Regions from separate parts of the Homo sapiens genome. Here regions 2 and 3 are each reported to be linked to region 1. Evidence: microRNA targets listed by miRTarBase, many of them from high-throughput screens and not tested one by one. Region 1 holds a microRNA gene; each other region holds the end of a gene's coding sequence.

Region 1 (4,148 bases):
GTGAACCACCTGCTTGTGCAGGGGACTGAGCCTTCACTTTGAGCCAAATAAGTTTTCTTTCCCAAGTTCGATCCTGAACAAGAGGGCTTTCTGGACTTCTTTTTGTTTTCAGGTTTGTGCCCCTTCAGGTTTGGGGCTGTCTGGAGTCCCAGCCAGGGGACAGTGAGGAAATCCAGCAGTCTCACACTGACTCTGTTGTATTTCATCTGCTGGGGCCATCCCAAACTGCTGCGTACCATTTCCTTTCCTGGTGCTCAAATAGCTGCTCCATGCACTTGTCATGGTTTTATAGCTCAATCTAGATGGGAAGACAGGATAGTGTATGTTACAATATTTAAATAGAACCTGAATCCCTTAATAGTTATTTTAATATGGAACATTAAAAGAGTTGCATCATAGGCAATGGGGAAAGATGAAGAAAGATTAAACGCATTTGGAGGAAAAACTAAAAATGTCTTTATTGAATGTCTGTGTGTCTTCAGTGTCGAAGGGTTGAGAGAGGTCAGCTTTAGGTTGTCCTGAGGATGTGCTCAGATGGGGGAAAGTAAGAAAGCCGGAAACGTGCATCTCTGTGACCTGACACATAAATCACAGTAAAATGGAAGTAAATCTTTCAATAAACCTTTCAAGATAACATCACTCTGGTGCACATAGAAAGGCCTGTTAGCAAACTTTCCCTTTTCCCTGCTGGCTCATATCCCCATGGATCACCTGTATGCAGAACGGACTCTGTGGTCTCCATTTATCAGGCTGAGAACCAGAGGCTGGGAAGGACAAGTCACCTGCTCATGAGTGGGAGGGGCAGGATTGGGAGCAGCGGACTCAGGCTCAGGACTGTGGCCCTGGTTGGTGCTCCTTGTTCCCTTCACAGGGTCCCACCCACATGTGCCCGTGTGGATGTGGGTGCACTGCCTGGGGTGGCTGATGTGCTCCAGGGATTTGATGGTGCAGATGCTTCAGGACAAAGCATGGGAGTGGGGATGGGACGAGGCTGCCGCTGGGCAGACCAGGGACCAACGCCACCCAGCAGAGGCTTCCAGTGGGGTTGGGCAGCCCCATTTCCTGAGAATAGAGAGAACCTGGCAATGAGTGCCAGAAAGAGGTTACTTCGAGGTGTGCCCAGGCCTGGAGGGTCACAGAGACACAGGCACCACACAGCAGAGACACTGAGGGCCAAGAGCTCACTCAGGTGAGGGGCTTCAGCAGATTTTTCTCTCCTGAGCAAATCACGTGCAAAGAAATCAACTTCCTGTCATCAGAATAGACAATCAGGGACTTTAGTCTCCTTGGCTGAGCCCCGCTGTCAAGGGAAGCAGAAGTCTCTAAGCCCAGGCCCAAGTGAGGGTGGGGTGAGAAGAGGAGCTCAGGATGCAGATTTGCATGGAGGTCCCGCCCTTCTCTGAGGCAGAGGGGATAAGACAGGGCTGGGGGCAGGCCCAGTGCTGGGGTCTCAGGAGGCAGCGCTCTCAGGACGTCACCACCATGGCCTGGGCTCTGCTCCTCCTCACCCTCCTCACTCAGGGCACAGGTGATGCCTCCAGGGAAGGGGCCACAGGGACCTCTGGGCTGATCCTTGGTCTCCTGCTCCTCAGGCTCACCTGGGCCCAGCACTGACTCACTAGACTGTGTTTCTCCCTTTCCAGGGTCCTGGGCCCAGTCTGCCCTGACTCAGCCTCCCTCCGCGTCCGGGTCTCCTGGACAGTCAGTCACCATCTCCTGCACTGGAACCAGCAGTGACGTTGGTGGTTATAACTATGTCTCCTGGTACCAACAGCACCCAGGCAAAGCCCCCAAACTCATGATTTATGAGGTCAGTAAGCGGCCCTCAGGGGTCCCTGATCGCTTCTCTGGCTCCAAGTCTGGCAACACGGCCTCCCTGACCGTCTCTGGGCTCCAGGCTGAGGATGAGGCTGATTATTACTGCAGCTCATATGCAGGCAGCAACAATTTCCACAGTGTTTTAAGTCAATGAGGAAGTAAGATCAAAACCTGCCCTGGGCTCTCAGGCCCCCTTCTTGCTCTGCAGATGCTTCCTCACGCTGTATAAGGGTTTCCTGCAGGATGGCCTTGACAATTCTCCTCTCTCAGCTCCTCTCCTTTCCCACCATGAGGTCTAAAAGGAAACCTGCTCGTGATTTCTCGTTCAGGACTGTGGCAACTTCCTTTTGCTTGTGTGCTCTGGTCCCTTAACGTGCAACTATTCCTAGCTCTTCAATGCAGGGACGTAGGGACAAGGAGTTTACTGCTTGGTGCAGTCCCTCCTGTTTTCAGGAACATCCTCATTCTAAATGCATCCCCCATCTGTCACACTATGCAGATCAATCTGGACAGAAGCCATCAGGGGGATGGCTTCCAGTTTCCAGGAATTGCATCTTGTTCCACTCTGTGTCCACCACGCTCTAATGAAGATGGCCCTCCTAGCTTAAAGTGACCACTTTAAGAAGACTTGAAGATGTTTTTGAGGGATTAAGAACAAAGAGGATGCTGCTGTTTTTCTTTTTATTGCTCCTGCTCTTTGCCGAAATTCCTCAGGTTGCTGAGCTGGGGAGATTTTGAGTGACAGGCTCAGTGCTCTCGCAGAATTCTCCTCCCCTCACATCGCTGAGGCCCTGTCCTGGAAACTCCTCACAAGTGGACGGTCTTCCCATAGGATGGGGGATTCCAAAATGGCTCCACAGGAAAGAGTTAACCTGAGTCCACCTCCCTTCCTCATGGACATCGAGCATTTCTAATTTTCATGGCTGTCAATACTTTTGTACCTGGAATCCCTAATAATCTAATGGTGAGAATTGATTTAGAACACATTCGGACATTAGCTGGGTCCAATATTTAAATTTTCTGAGCCAGTTGTTAAATACAGCTATTATCATATATAGTTTAGGCTCCTTAAACTTCGATTATACAGATTATATTTAAAACAAAGTAACTAGTTTACTATATATATTTACAAAGTAACTACTATATAACATCATGTTGTGTACCTGAAATATAAACACTAAAATTTATTTCAAAAACCAAAGTGTATTGTCTATTGATGCATAAAAAAACACTCACAAAACTTAGCACACTAAGAGAACACATGTCTGTGACCTTGTGACTTGGATGCACCTAGAATTGGGAGTAGCTTAGTTTGGTCATTCTCGCTCCTGGTTAATCACGAGGTTGCAGCCAAGCTGTCAGGCCAGGCTGCATTCAGGCTACATCTGCCAAAGAGGTTAGGAACTGTGGAAGCCTCCCTCTGGCTGTGGAAGCCTCCCTCTGGCTGTGGAAGCCTCCCTCTGGCTGGGAGACTTCCGCAGTTCCTAACCTCTTTGGCAGATGTAGATCATCTCAAGGATAAAGGAGAGAGTGGAGTGAAGGCCCCTGTCCTTGTCCTCCATGTAAAAGACCATCCCATGCATGCACTATTTTTTATTCTTTGCTGAGACATCCTAGGCATAGAGCACTGCCCCATTCATTCAAAGGTTGTAGAGTATTCTATGGTAGAATTTTAGCCAACTCACTTTTAATGGTTATTATCACTATTTTGATCTTATAAATAACACTGCAGCGAACATCCTTATGTAGACTCCTTTGATTTTATATGTAGACATGACCATAGAATAAATTTCTAGAAGTCAAATTGCTGAGTCAAAAGGATGTGTGCTTGTAATTTTCACTCACTGTCCTCAGATTCTCCTCTAGAGGGGTTATCTACAAATTCGCAATGTCAGCCATAAATATTCGAACAGAGTACACTGGGGAAAGTTTAAATGTTTTTCAACCTAGCAGATTTAAAAATGTTATCTTTTTTTAGTTTTGATTTCTCCTGTTCTGCTTGAAGTTGAGCATTTTCTCTAATACTTCAGTGCTATTTATTTTTATAATTTGGTAAACATTTTCTTAAATGTCCAGATAAGAAGGATTTTGGTCTGTGGTTCCCAAGAGTCAACTTTGAGGATATTCTGTAGGTATTTTTAGCACCATTTATAGTGTAACCATTTAAACCTATAAAAACCACTCTCAGCTCTGGGGCCATGGAAAAACAGGTGGCAGGACAGGGATGGCCCACAGGATGTGGTTTAACGGTCCCTGATTTGTAGGGTAATTTGAAGTTTGAGAATTCCACCGCATATGTTCTAGGTGGAGATCTCTATTTGAAGGATACT
Region 2 (4,000 bases), not on the chromosome of region 1:
GGACCTTCGGCAGGCGTGTGTGTACACACACACGTCCAAGGGGGAGTGGGGGTGGCAGAAGGCAAGTTCGGCAGATTTCATTTATGGAGAAGTGGAGATGAAGAGCAACAGAGGCAGAGAGGAGCAGAGTCAAGACAGGTCCCCGTCTCTCTTAGTGACCTGCTCCCAGGTCACCCAAAGCAGCCCAGCAAAGGGGAGACTGGCAGGCCTGGCAAGCAGGGGTGGGCCAAGCCTGGGCCGAGAGCCCCCATGAACTCCAGGTCCTGAACGCCAGCCCCCTCCAGGGTCCTGTTTTGTCAGGGTCAGTGGGGCTCAGGAAAGACTCTAACCTCTAGCCTAACTCAGAGAAGGTCTGCCACTGGCTGAGGGGCACGCAGCAAGCCAGGGAGGCCCAGGTAGGGTAGATGGAGATCTTGGGAGTGGGCAGGGGTGCTAAGCTGGGAATGGGGACATCTGGGGTCACCCTATTGTATCCCTGCCTCCATGACTGACCTGAGACATATCCCCTCAGGCCTTGGTTTTCCTACTTGGGAAGAAGGAGGGTCAGGTCCCTTCCAGCCAGGGCTGTGGTCAAGGTGCTGAGTCACTAGGGGCAGTGGGGAGGGGGTGGGAGACAGCTTTGCCTCCCTCTGGAGTTGGGGCATGAGGGGGCCAGGACAGAGCCGAGCACAGCGGTGAACGGTGGAGAAAGGGCTCAGGGCCGTGGCTGGTGCCCATGGTGGCCGCAGGGCCACCCATGGCCCCATGGGAGGGTGACTCTGAGCAGCCCTTACCAACTGTAGGACTCTGCTGCCCTGGAGTGGGGCCTGAAGAACTCTGGGGGCGGCACTAGAGTCAGGAGTGAGGGGCCCTTGCGTTTCCAGGCTCCCCTTCCCCAGTCAGCCCAGCCTGGAGCTGCCACAGAGTGGGGTGACCGCTGCTGTGATTGTCGCCAGCCCCCCGCCAACACCAGACACACAAATGGGGTGGGCTGAGGGGTGGGAGGCAGCAGGGGCAGTGACACTGGAGCAGGGACAAGAGGAGACATGGAGAGACAGAACAGGTCACACAAGGGCAGAAAGGTCAAGAGAAAACAGCAGGGCCAGAGAGAGGGGAAGAGACCCAGAAACAGCGGCGGGGCCCGAACAACCCCGGAGGGTGAGACTAACAGAGACTCGGGTAGGGAGACACCGCGAGCAGAGCCCGCGCCCACTCACGTCCTGGAAGAGCGTGTGTCCGGCGGGCCCCGGGTCGGGCGCGAGCTGGGGGTGCCGCGGGGTCTGGGGCTGGGGCTGGGGCGCGGGCGGCCGGAGCAGGCACACGGTGAGCAGCCCCGCGCACGCCATGGCGCCGCCACCCGCTCGGGCTCGGCTGCGGTTGCTGCCGACCCTGGACGCCGCGGCGGACTCGGTGTGGCTAGAGGCCGCCCCTTGGCGCCGGCGCCGACGCGCGGGCTCAGGCCCCGCCCCCGCCCCGCCCCCGCGGACGCCGGGTTCCCTCGCCTCAAGGTCCAACTCCAGCGCCGCGGGCCTCCGCGCTTCCGCGGCCACGGCGGAGGGGGAGGCGCCCGAGGGCTCCGGTCCCGCGACGGCCTGTCGGGAGCAGAACCTAGGGGCTGCGGGCCTACCCAGAGGGACAGGATGACCAAGCCAGTGCCGAGGTCAGGGTGACACAAGTGGGTAAAACCCACCAGGACTTCACCTTTTGGGGCGTCTGTATCCTCATCTACAAAAATGGTACTGGCAGACACCCTATGCAATTGTTGGGACTCATTCAATGTCAAGTGCTTACAACGGGGGCTGGCGCAGAGGAAGCCCACAGGTCCGTGCGGCCGAATCCCAGGCATCCCGACGCCCGCCCTCTCTGGCACTAAGCGCAGCCCTTTCCCCTCCCCTCCGTGACTCTGGCCCTCCCTTCAACCCGTTCTCCACACAGCAGCCGGGGGGAGCTTTTAAGATGCGAAAGAGGAGGTGTCACTTCGGTCTCCAGTGACTCCTTGGCCCCTGAATAAAGCTTAAGACTGAACGCCCCACTCCAGGAGCACCACTCTGACCCTCACCTCAGGACCGCAGCCACACTGCTTTCTCTCCGGTCCTCTATCCCGCTCCCTCCTGCCCAAGGCCTTTGCCCATCGTGTCCTCTGCTTGGTGTTTTCTTCCTCTGGTTAACTCCTACTTATTTTACAGCGCTCAGCTTAAGCACCACCCATTCCAGAACGCCTTTCCCGATTTTCTCATTTATGCAGATCTCCTCTTTCAGACCCTGAGAGCACCATGAAAGGAGGTAACACCCGTGTCCCCAGAACTGTTAAATACCTGACACAGAACCAGCCCACTGTATTTGTTACATGTTTACTAATGTCCAGAAACGTCTGGAAGGAAGACAGCAAACTGAGCAGAGTGGCCTCTGGGGCTGGGGAAAGGAGAGGCCACTCATTACTCTGCACTTCGGGCAGCACTGAATAGCATTCTTGGCTTTCTACAACAAAAACCTTTACTGGATCTGCTTTTGAGTTAGGACCAAAACAGCGAGGAAGCTGACCTTTCTTCGAGTTATGAGGCTCAAATCAAATCGGGCACGGACAGGGAGAAGGGAAGTGGAGAATGGGCATTTCCCCAGCAACCTTGGCCTCTCCCGCCCCGAAATGTTCCCAACAGAGTCCCAAAACCCGGCCCAAACGTCATCAAAATATTTATTAAAACCAAAGCAGGAGGGAACAGAGCTGTTAGGAAGCAAATCAAAGTGCAGATTGGAGGGTGGGGCAGAGCAGTGGGGAGGCAGGCGCTTCAGACACTGCAGGAGGGACCACAGGGTCTGGGCTGGGGGAGGCCTTCACCACCCCTCCTGCCCACATCAGTGAAGGTCCCCCACTCACCTCTCCCATCTCATATCCATCCTGGGGGGCAGCTGGGGCCCTGAACTGGCCCCCTGGAGAGGGCCCACCCCACCATCTGACCACCCATGGCTGTCAGTCAGTCTGTCTCCCTCCCTCACTTTCCCAATAAATAAATCACCCAGGCCTCAGTTCCTTCAGTATGGGGCAGAAGAACAGCTCAGGGACCCCTGCCCTTGCTCAAGGGTAGAGGGAGTTGGGGTATCAACCCCACACCCCTCCTCCCCTTTGCTGATTCCCCAGGCTCACCAAAGAGGCCTCGATAAATAAATAACGCTCCATTAAAGCTTCAATCAGAAAAAACCTTTAAGACAGAAGTGCTCTCACCGTCCTACACGCCCAGCCAGCCAAAGCCTCCCCACCTGGCCTGGTCAGAGCACCAGATTCTGGGAGCAGGCACTGCCCTGGGCCTTGTGGGACCCCCAGAGCAAAAGGGCCGAAAGTGCAGTTAGAGCCCCCCCACGCGCACACATGGACTCATGCACACACATGTGGACACACTGGGGCGTGTCTGCAGTGCACACACAGAGGTGTATGTTCACCTTCATTCCCCGGTACATGCACACACACATGCTCACACACATTCACCCCCGGTACACACGTGTGGGTGTAGGCTGCATGCACATACACACCACACAGACTCCTTCCCTTCCTGGCTTGCTCAGCCTCCTAGCGGTAGCCAGACCCCAGAGCTAGAAGCTTCTGGAGACAGAGGAGAGGGGTATAAATTAAATGTTTCCAAACAGGCTGGGAGGACGGCCAGGGACAGGGGGCTCCAGGGCTGCAGAGACAAGGTGAGCATCTCTGGAAACCCTGGTCCCTCCAAGCCCTGTCAGAAATCCAGGGGGGTGAGGTCCCCAAAGTCACAGTCGAAGAGGTCTCTGATGCCCTCGCCCTCCTCGAGGCCGAAGTGGTAGTCGAGGGCCTCGTGGGGTGGGGAAAGGCTGATGAACTCCTCAGGGAGGAGGCCGGAGAAGTCCTCCCGCACATGCTCCAGGAGCGAGTCGGCCGCCACCAGCGGGGACAGGCGGTCCTCGTCCACGGGAGCCCGCAGGCTGCCCATCCGGGACAACAGCGGTTCTGGGGAGACGGGGAGCATCACAGGCCGGGGATGCCCCAGCAGGGAGG
Region 3 (4,000 bases), not on the chromosome of region 1:
GGTCTCGAACTCCTGACCTCAGGTGGTCCACCCGCCTCACTCCCAAAGTGCTGAGGTTACAGGCATGAGCCACCGCGCCTGGCCTAAAGCTCTTTTTTAAAAACCATCTTTGATTAGCTGAAGGATTTAACTCCTCTTGTGAGAGGGCAGTTTTTACTAGCCATGGGACCCTGGGTAAATCTCTTTATTTCCTGGTGTCTCCGTTTCCTCCCCTGTGAACGAGCGATAACAGCTCCCTCAGGAGGAAGGTGGAAGGCGGTGAAGCACCTGGCATATGCAGTAGTGCTGAGATAGCACCTGTTCATCTCTCCCAAGACACCACTGTTCGGGTTGACAGGTGGTAGTGAAACCAAGCAGAATTCTCGGAGGGTGAGTCCAATCCAGACAGACTGGGTCCAGCAGATCCCTGAGTTAAAAGGAAATAACTTAACAGCCTTGACCTAGAATCAGATGGATGCTCATGTGCAGAGAAAATGGGATTTGCCACCTGTTCTCAACTCAAGGCAGGCTCTGTGTCTGGCGGCTTCAAGGAAGTGTCCCTTGGCCATGGCTCTTCCACTACGGGAGCAAGCAGGAGGCACCCAGGTCTCCCTGCCCACCCAGAGTCCCTGCAGGAGGCCCTCCAGATCTCTCAGTAACGGGCCCTCTTTCTTCTTTTTTTCAGCCTGGGGACTCCTCGGGATGGAAAGGCCTTCCGGATCTTTGCTGTCAGGCAGTGAATTTCCAGCACCAGGGGAGAAGGGGCGTCTTCAGGAGGGCTTCGGGGTTTTGCTTTTATTTTTATTTTGTCATTGCGGGGTATATGGAGAGTCAGGAAACTTCCTTTGACTGATGTTCAGTGTCCATCACTTTGTGGCCTGTGGGTGAGGTGACATCTCATCCCCTCACTGAAGCAACAGCATCCCAAGGTGCTCAGCCGGACTCCCTGGTGCCTGATCCTGCTGGGGCCTGGGGGTCTCCATCTGGACGTCCTCTCTCCTTTAGAGATCTGAGCTGTCTCTTAAAGGGGACAGTTGCCCAAAATGTTCCTTGCTATGTGTTCTTCTGTTGGTGGAGGAAGTTGATTTCAACCTCCCTGCCAAAAGAACAAACCATTTGAAGCTCACAATTGTGAAGCATTCACGGCGTCGGAAGAGGCCTTTTGAGCAAGCGCCAATGAGTTTCAGGAATGAAGTAGAAGGTAGTTATTTAAAAATAAAAAACACAGTCCGTCCCTACCAATAGAGGAAAATGGTTTTAATGTTTGCTGGTCAGACAGACAAATGGGCTAGAGTAAGAGGGCTGCGGGTATGAGAGACCCCGGCTCCGCCCTGGCACGTGTCCTTGCTGGCGGCCCGCCACAGGCCCCCTTCAATGGCCGCATTCAGGATGGCTCTATACACAGCAGTGCTGGTTTATGTAGAGTTCAGCAGTCACTTCAGAGATGTATCTTGTCTTTGTCAGGCCCTTCGTCTTCATGGCCCACCTGTTTTCTGCCGTGACCTTTGGTCCCATTGAGGACTAAGGATCGGGACCCTTTCTTTACCCCCTACCCGTTGTGGCTCCCACCCTGCCTCGGACTGGTTTACGTGTCCTGGTTCACACCCAGGACTTTTCTTTGCAAGCGAACCTGTTTGAAGCCCAAGTCTTAACTCCTGGTCTCGTAAGGTTCCACTGAGACGAGATGTCTGAGAACAACCAAAGAAGGCCTGCTCTTTGCTGCTTTTAAAAAATGACAATTAAATGTGCAGATTCCCCACGCACCCGATGACCTATTTTTTCAGCCGTGGGAGGAATGGAGTCTTTGGTACATTCCTCACCGAGGTTAGCAGCTCAGTTTGTGGTTATGAAACCGTCTGTGGCCTCATGACAGCGAGAGATGGGAATACACTAGAAGGATCTCTTTTCCTGTTTTCGTGAAACGACTCTTGCCAAACGTTCCCGAGGCGCCAAGGAGTGTAGTACACCCTGGCTGCCATCACTCTATAAAAGTGCTTCATGAGCCCAGACCAAAAGCCCACAGTGAAATGAAGTACCCTTTTGTAAATAGCATTTTTTTGCAGAAGGTGAAAATTCCACTCTCTACCACCGGGCCAGCCAATAGATCACTTTGGTGAATGCTAGTTTCAAATTTGATTCAAAATATTTCTTAGGTGAAAGAACTAGCAGAAAGTCAAAAACTAAGATACTGTAGACTGGACAAGAAATTCTACCTGGGCACCTAGGTGATGCCTTCTTTCTTTGATTGCCTTTCTAATAAATGCAGAATCTGAAGGTAAATAGGTTTAAAACAAAACAAAAACCCACCCCTTTAAGGAGTTGGTAAAAAGCAGTTCAACTCTTAGCTTGACTGAGCTAAAATTCACAGGACTACGTGCTTTGTGCATTGTAGTCTAGTCGTAATTCATAGGTACTGACTCCTCAGCCCCAAATGTCGGAGAGGAAGAATTCGGTCAGCCTGTCAGGTCGTGAGTCCAGTTACCACCAAACATCTGGGAAACTTCTGGGTGCTGGGTGCTCTGCTGCTGGACTTTTGTGGCTGTGTCTGTGTCTGCAAGATAAATTAGATCGCCCTGTGGGGTTTGCAGAATTAGTGAAGGGTCCAGGACGATCCCAGTGGGCTCGCTTCCAAAGCATCCCACTCAAGGGAGACTTGAAACTTCCAGTGTGAGTTGACCCCATCATTTAAAAATAAAGTCCCCGGGTTCCTTAATGCCTCCTTCACTGGGCCTTCCTAGCAGGATAGAAAGTCCTTGCCCAGAGCAGGACCTGGCTGTCTTTTTTTTTTTTTTTTTTTTTTTCCCGAGACCAAGTTTCACTCTGTTGCCCAAGGTAGAGTGCAGTGGCGTGATCTCTGCTCATTGCAACTGCCGCCTCCCGGGTTCAAGCAATTCTCATGCATCAGCCTCCCAAGTACCTGGGACTACAGGCGTGAGCTACCATGCCCGGCTAATTTTTGTATTTTTAGTAGAGATGGGGTTTCATTATGTTGGCCAGGCTGGTCTCGAACTCCTTACCTCAGGTGATCCACCCACCTTGGCCTCCCGAAGTGCTGGGATTACAGGCATGAGCCACTGCGCCCGGCCATGGACCTGGCTGTCTTTATCATCCCCACAAACATTTTGAAACTGGAATATTTGTCTTCAGAAAATGGAAACAAGACTATAAATGATAAGCCCTGTCCCTAGCACCACCTCTCCTGTGTGTGGAATAGAGGCCCCTCGTGCTACCAACACTTACCCTGTGTTTAAAAAGATCTTGTACCAAGCCAACGGCGTTCCTGGCTCTCCTGCCCACAGGATGAACATTTTCGGCTTCCTTAGGAGTTTTGCCCTACCGTATTCCAAAGCGTGTGCTGGTTTCTCATATTGTCTGTAGGCTCACTCAGCCCGCAGTTTATGTGTGTGCTTTTTTCTATGAAAAATGATGTATTTTGCTACTTCCTGTGTACAAAGTTTTATTGTAAATGTTTTTTGTGCTTTGCATGAACAGGGGCCACGTTGTTGCAATTGTTTCAGTAGAACTGGTTTGATTTCTAAAATGTTCCTGTAACATATCTTTTATGAACAAATCTGAACAATTTGTGAAATAAAACATTGAAAACCATCTTTCAGGCTCTGGACTGTTTTGTGTTGGCTGCTTCTGCTAGGATGTCTCATATACACAGAGATGCTGACAGCCAGGGCCTGGTGGAGACCTCCACCCCATCCGCGGGAAGGAGGGAGGAGCTTGCCAAAATGCAATTTCGGGCTCAGCAAGGCTGGGTTGGGGCCAGGGACTGTGAATTTCTCCCAAGATCCTGGTGATGCGAATGCTGCCAGTCCCCAGATCACACTCTGAGTGGTGGTGGGCTCAAGGCCATTCTGTCTAAGCTCCGGCTGCCCTAACAAAATACCATAGACTGGGTGACTTAACCCACAGAGATATCTTCCTCACAGTTCTGGAGGCTGGAAGTCTAAGATCAGGGTGCCAGCAGCGTTGGTTTCCTCTGCGGCCTCTCTTTGGTTTGCAGGTGGCTGCC

What was found. The annotated mature microRNA hsa-miR-650 reads AGGAGGCAGCGCUCUCAGGAC and lies in region 1 at 1,453-1,473, shown strand. An mRNA with a match to its seed (bases 2 to 7 or 8) in the 3' UTR can be bound and repressed. Matches are read on the target gene's strand: a 7mer-m8 pairs with bases 2 to 8, a 7mer-A1 pairs with bases 2 to 7 and ends in A, and an 8mer does both.
Region 2: the mRNA of E2F1 is a reported target of hsa-miR-650. Seed matches in the 3' UTR shown: 7mer-m8 at 2,753-2,759.
Region 3: miRTarBase lists CRISPLD2 as a target of hsa-miR-650. Seed matches in the 3' UTR shown: 7mer-m8 at 2,693-2,699.

Annotation. Positions count from the first base shown.
Region 1 is chr22:22,821,339-22,825,486 of GRCh38, forward strand. MIR650 (microRNA 650) reads left to right here and starts at 1,438; the gene lies at 1,438-1,533. It overlaps LOC105372948 (a long non-coding RNA gene), which reads right to left. Exons shown (of 4, transcript XR_938047.2): 4 at 1-298. It also overlaps IGL and IGLV2-8.
Region 2 is chr20:33,673,028-33,677,027 of GRCh38, forward strand. E2F1 (E2F transcription factor 1) reads right to left here. Exons shown (of 7, transcript NM_005225.3): 7 at 2,450-3,952. The coding sequence ends at 3,705. It overlaps NECAB3 (N-terminal EF-hand calcium binding protein 3), which reads right to left and starts at 1,401. Exons shown (of 12, transcript NM_031232.4): 1 at 1,197-1,401. The coding sequence starts at 1,325. RefSeq lists enhancers at 162-709, 710-1,257, 1,928-2,428 and a silencer at 1,112-1,741.
Region 3 is chr16:84,905,924-84,909,923 of GRCh38, forward strand. CRISPLD2 (cysteine rich secretory protein LCCL domain containing 2) reads left to right here. Exons shown (of 15, transcript NM_031476.4): 15 at 665-3,585. The coding sequence ends at 719. Among named protein-coding and RNA genes, the nearest start is that of LINC02176, 20 kb to the right of the region's middle.